Linked DNA regions of Homo sapiens: region 1 is linked to region 2. Evidence: fine-mapped QTL for protein levels in blood plasma. Region 2 holds a variant in brackets. A gene starts in the other region. All regions are shown on their reverse strands.

Evidence for each region. PIP is the posterior inclusion probability: the model's chance that the variant is causal. Protein levels are from antibody-based Olink assays in UK Biobank. Linkage for the fine-mapping came from a reference panel and not from the study's own genotypes, which makes the PIPs less certain.
Region 1: it holds the start of VSNL1, and the variant in region 2 is fine-mapped to the plasma level of the VSNL1 protein (UK Biobank, PIP above 0.99).

What each region holds. Positions count from the first base shown.
Region 1 is chr2:17,539,262-17,542,173 of GRCh38, reverse strand. VSNL1 (visinin like 1) reads right to left here and starts at 1,478. Exons shown (of 4, transcript NM_003385.5): 1 at 1,256-1,478.
Region 2 is chr3:195,561,192-195,564,103 of GRCh38, reverse strand. It overlaps the pseudogene RPL31P64. Among named protein-coding and RNA genes, the nearest start is that of PPP1R2, 19 kb to the right of the region's middle. The variant G/A (reference allele first, on the strand shown) is at 1,289.

The sequences.
Region 1 (2,912 bases), not on the chromosome of region 2:
GTAAAATGTGTTTTCACAAGAGTTTCATTTTAAATTTGTCTCAACCTGAAATTCCTTTAGAAATTAAAATAAATATTAATATGTAGAAATAAAACTCCCCAGCTTTTCTTGCCTTCAACTGGAAAGTGATACACAAATAGTATGTACTTAGTGTTCTCCACAACCACCAACAATTCTATTTTATTTTAGTTTCCAAAATACGGACAGGAGGGCAACTCTAGAAAAATGGATTCCCACTCTGGCATCTCACAGGGCACTGATCAGGCAATGCGGAGCACTCATCATTTCCACCATGCAGGGAGCATCAGCCTCTCCTCGCTCCTTCCACGTACACATTCTTGTACCCCTGAGGGTATTCATCATTCTGATTTCCACCCGGGGTTTGACCTTGCAAAGACCCTTCTTCCAGTTTCTGGGCAAGGAACAACCCATTTTAACTCAAAACACAAAACGACCTTTTATCCTTTAAAGAAATACTACCAAATGTAACACACCTTGATTTACATTTTTTAACCCCAGATTCCGGATGGCGAACACGGAATGCAAAGGCAGGTAACTAGTTTGGGTCTGACAGTCCCCATTCAGCGACCGAGCCTGTGACTCCGTTCAAAATCGACAGTGCAGTAGAGCATCTTTCCCTTTTCTGCCCATTCACCATTGTGACAAAAATCAAAGACGAAAAAAATTATCTACTCATTTCTGAATACTGAGAGAAATGTGCTCATTTTGCGCCTGACTCCGTGGATCTTAAACACTAACATCCCGCTCAGAGATCAACCATGATTTCCATACCAATCTCATCCACTCAGTTTTACTTAGCAAACACCTTTGCTGCCCTTCCACAGTGAGAAAAATGGTGCACCAATCCCACGGATGACAGGTTGCTACTCGACTGTACCCGCTCAATAGTTTTATCAGCAACCGGAAAACTTCACAATCGGTCAATTAGCTACTTAAATCTGTCTAAGACAAACTAAGAAAGCATCTCAGTTTCACCTGTCTTAAATCTAGTCTAAGACAATCCCCCAAACACGCCGCATATAAACACTCCCCCTTCCCCCACCCCCAATATTCCAAAAGATCCCCCATGGACTAAGAGCACATTCAGATCGCCAGCATTAAGCAAGGAAATTGTCCCCATGCATTTAGACGCATCTATGCAAAGCAAAGTATGTGACAATAGCCAAAGCATTTCTCTGACAGTTGGTTGCACTACACATGCAGAAATGCAACGAAGATTGTATTTTCCACTTACAGTTACAGCGCTGCGCACGGTCACTTAACGAAAATGATAAAACTCAACAGTTCTTTTTAAAAATATATATTTAATTCGGGTAAACGCTTAAGCCGTCTCTGTGTGTGGTTCTCTCTCGCTCTCTTTTTCTCTGGAGCTCTGGGCTGCTTAAATCCCTCTTGGATCGCGCCTTGCAAGCCCAGCCGCTGCCGCAACACGCTCGGGTAAATCTCTGCTGCAGATTGGGAATCCCATAGAAAACCTAGGGTCCCTGGAGCTGGATGCGCAGGCGCGCGAGCCTCCGCCTCTCCAGGCACCCCCTCCCCTTTCCTCTCTTCCCTCCCCCCAGCTCCGCAGCCCCAGCTAGGAGAACTCGGGAGCCTGTGACCAAAAGCCGCCTGGCGATGGCGCATGCTCAGTCGGAGGGGCTCGGAGTTTCCGCGGGTGGATTCCACGTCTCCAGATTTTAGCAAAAGCTCAAAAGGAAAGTATATAGGAAAAGGGAGTCCGGCTACCGGAGCAACCCGCACCTGGACGGGCGCGAGGGACTGCGGGTTACCCGGACTCGCCACGCCCAGTGGTTACCGAACCTGGGGGCTGAAGGCCGAGGCCAGAGATGGAACACGTGGAGCCGCTTTTCCCGCTGCTTTCTGTCCTAGCCGACCCCCGGCCCACCCTTTGTTAGGCTGTAAGGTGAAGGAGAAAACTGCAGAAATCTCCGAAAGAAGACTTCCCAGCAAGCTGTGAGCACGTCTACCTGGCTTACTGAAGGAACGGTTATGGTGGTCATTTTGTCATGGGCCATTTCATCAGAGGGTCTTCTGCTAGGAGTACTGGGAGCCGGGTCCTGCAGCACCCAGTGCCCCGGACAGTCTCGGTCCAGAACGGCGTTGAAAAAATGTGTGTTAAAGGGAGCTGGGATCCGAGGCTTCTTGCCCTGTGTACCCTGAGCCAAGCGCCTTCTGTATGCACTTAAGTGTTTTTAACATATGCTTTGCGTCTGGGGTGGGAGGGGGTGGGTGAAAGGGCGGGAATGAACCATTTTGCGAACCCACGTTTAAGGGCTCTGATTAGGCCATCTTATAAAGCCCCCTTTGTGTCCTTGAACAACTAACAGGTTTGCCAGCCCTCCCCCCGGCTCCCCATTGGCCTGCCAAAGCCTAGAAGGCTTGGCAAGGAGTAGTGCCCAATAAATGTTTGGTCGGTCGCTTCCCTACCAGAAAAGCAAGGAGAATTCCCAGATGTTCCCAACCAGACCAGTTTTCCTCAAGTGTGTATGTTGTACATGAACTCATTCAACAATTATTCATGGAAGCATTTGCAAAACTATTAGACATTCCTTTATGCTTTGGGAATAAGTGCGGTTAACAAAACCCCCTCCTGGGCTTTACATTCAGGTGGGAGTTTTATTTTCAAGGGAGGGAAGTTCTGGGGGCGAGATGAAGATCGAGGTTCTCCTTAAGCAGAGCGCTGTACAATTTGCACAGCGTCTTCACACACCTTATCATGTTCAGGAAAACTGTAGAGTTGACCTACCCTTCGGTGCTGGGGACACCAAGAGCGTCTCCCGTGGCAAATGAGCTCTAAATTGACAAATCTCCAGCTGCTCCTGGTTCCAAGTCGAGGAGTCCAGCTTTGAACAAACTTGAGACTACTTAAGTGGGCACCAGGAGAAACT
Region 2 (2,912 bases):
TTCTAAACCTTACCAATGTATATGTTATTTTGCAGTCAAATGTTCTACCCCCAAGCTATGCCCCCACTTAATTATTTTGATGTATATCTGGTTCCTTGGGGATATGTATATTTTACTCATATTCCATATTATAGTCTATAAATGCAAGAAAGTACTGTATTTTATTCCCCGGAGTTTTCCTAGTATGCTAATTATAATTAAAATATTAAAAAGCCAACCTTCAGCATCTTCAGTACACCCAGAGATCCAGGAGGAACAACAGCTCATTGCATTATAAAGTGACTCTCTCAGTGAACAAGGTTGGAAGACTTGAGAAAAGAGCTATCAAAGCTGAGCGTAATACATGTGGTTAAACTCTACCCCAGAGCTCTTGGTCTACGGGTGCTGTAGCCCTAATGCTGCCTCTGGGTATCTGTAGAGGGGAAGGTGCTCAGCTTCTGCTTAGAGACTCTCTGTGACCCCTGATTGACATGCATCCTCCTGGCTGGGTATCTCAGTCCTCGCCACCCAACTTGCCTGCCTCTTCTCCCGTGGCTCCTTCTCAGGCAGCCATTTTTGGTTTTCAACCAAAGCATGTCGCAATTACCCGGGGGGGAAATATATTGGTTCCTTGGGAAGACATCCCAGGATGGGGAGACAGAGGGCAAAAGGTTGCAAAACATTCTCCAGGGTGATTCAAACCTGCTTCCCTGACTTGACTGAGAACCACTGCTTTTTCAAAGAAAACTAATGACCACTTCCCATGCCTCCCCTGTCTGTACCTTTAGTACACATCACTCCTTTTGTTGAAATGTCCTGCTGCCAAAATCCAACCCACATCTGCTCTTTCGCAGAGCAATTTGGCAAAAACTAGTAAAGCTGAGGATGACCTAGTAATTCTCTTCTCTGGTAAATATCCTAGAAACACTTCTGCACATAAGCACAAGAAGATACATACGGAAATGTTCACTGCAGCACTGTTTGAAAGACAGAAAAACCAAAAACAACCTAAATGTTCATTAACAGAAGAACTGATTTAAAAATTGTGGGCTGGGTACAGTGGCTCACGCCTATAATCCCAGCACTTTGAGAGGCCGAGGTGGGCAGTTTACTTGAGGCCAGGAGTTTGAGACCAGCCTGGCCAACATGGTGAAACCCCGTCTCTACTAAAAATACAAAAATTAGCTGGGCATGGTGGCGCACACCTGTAATCCCAGCTACTTGGGAGGCTGAGGCACGAGAATCACTGGAATCTGGGAGGTGGAGTTTGCAGTGAGCCAAGATGGCGCCACTGCACTCCAGCCTGGGC[G/A]ACAGAGGGAAACTCTGTCTCAAAAAAAAAAAATTGTAGCATGCACACATATGTGCAGGTACGCATACACACCATGGAATACTATGCTACAGAGAAAATTAGAGCTACATGTATCAACATATATAATCTATAAAATACGTTGGGCAAAAAGCAATATACAGGATACAGTATGAAATATATAAAACGACATTATTTCAGAATACATAAATATGCAATAAAGTAAAATGAAATGCAGGAAATAATAAACACCAAATTCAAGGTCCTGGTTCCCTCCGGAGAGTGGAGAGAGAGGGCGGCATTTCAGTAGAGGAACACCAGTGGCTTTCATTGCATGGGTAACTGCATTAGTTTCTGTGGCTGCTGTAGCAAATGACCACAAACTCAGTGGTTTAAAGCACCTGAAATGTATTCTCTCATAGTTCTGGAGGCCAGAAGTCCAAAATCAGTATCACTGGGCCGAAATGAAGGTGTGGGCAGGGCTGTGAAGGCTCTAGGGGAGAATCTGTTCCTTACCTCTTCCAACTTTTGGTATTTTGGTGGCTGCTGGCATTCCTTGGTTTGTGGCCACAACACTCCAATCTTCAAATCTGCTTGTCTTCACAGGGCCTGTGTGTGTGTGTGTGTGTGTGTGTGTGTGTGTGTTTGTGTGTGTGTCAAGTGTGAAATCTTCTGCCTGTCTCCAAAAGAATACATGTAATTACATTTAGGGCCCACCTGGATAATCCAGGATAATCTCCCTACTTCAAAAGTCTAACTCGGCTGTGTGCGGTGGCTCACGCCTGTAATCCCAGAACTTTAGGAGTCTGAGGCAGGTGGATCACTTGAGGTCAGAAGTTTGAGACCAGCCTGGCCAACATTGCGAAACCCCATCTCTACTAAAAATACAAAAATTAGCTGGGCTTGGTGGCACGCGCCTGTAATCCCAGCTACTCAGGAGGCTGAGGCAGGAGAATTGCTTGAACCCAGGAGGCGGAGGTTGCAGTGAGCCACTGCATCACTGCACCACTGCACTCCAGCCTGGGCATCAGAGTGAGACTCTGTCACAAAGGAAAAAAAAAAGCCTTAACTCAATCATATCTGCTATGACATTTTTTCCAAACTGAACATTTCCAGGCTTCAGAGATGAGGACCTGGTAGCTTTGGAAGAGCATTTTTCAGCCTATCACAGTAATATTTTCTTAAACTGAAAGGTAGGTAATAGAGGATATAATGGCTTCCCACTTGGGCCCAGCAGAATGACTCCTGCAAAAAGGGTAGCCAGAAAAAGGGGGGTCATTCTGCCATCAATGAGGCAGTGACCTGAGGATACACCATCAACATTCACAGGTGCATCCATGGAGTGGGCTTCAAGAAGAATACCCCTCAGGCACTCAAGAGAGATCCAGAAATCTGCCATGATGGAGATGGGGACTCCAGATGTACGCACTAATACTAGGCTCAACAAATGTCTGGGTGAAAGGAAGGGCCGTACCACATCCATGTTTATCGTGCAGAAAACATAATGAGGGTGAAGGTTCAGCAAACAAACTCTATACTTTGGTTTAACTATGTACCTGTGACCACTTTCAAACATCTATAGACAGTCAATGTGGGTGAGAGCCAACCACTGATTGTCAAATAAAGT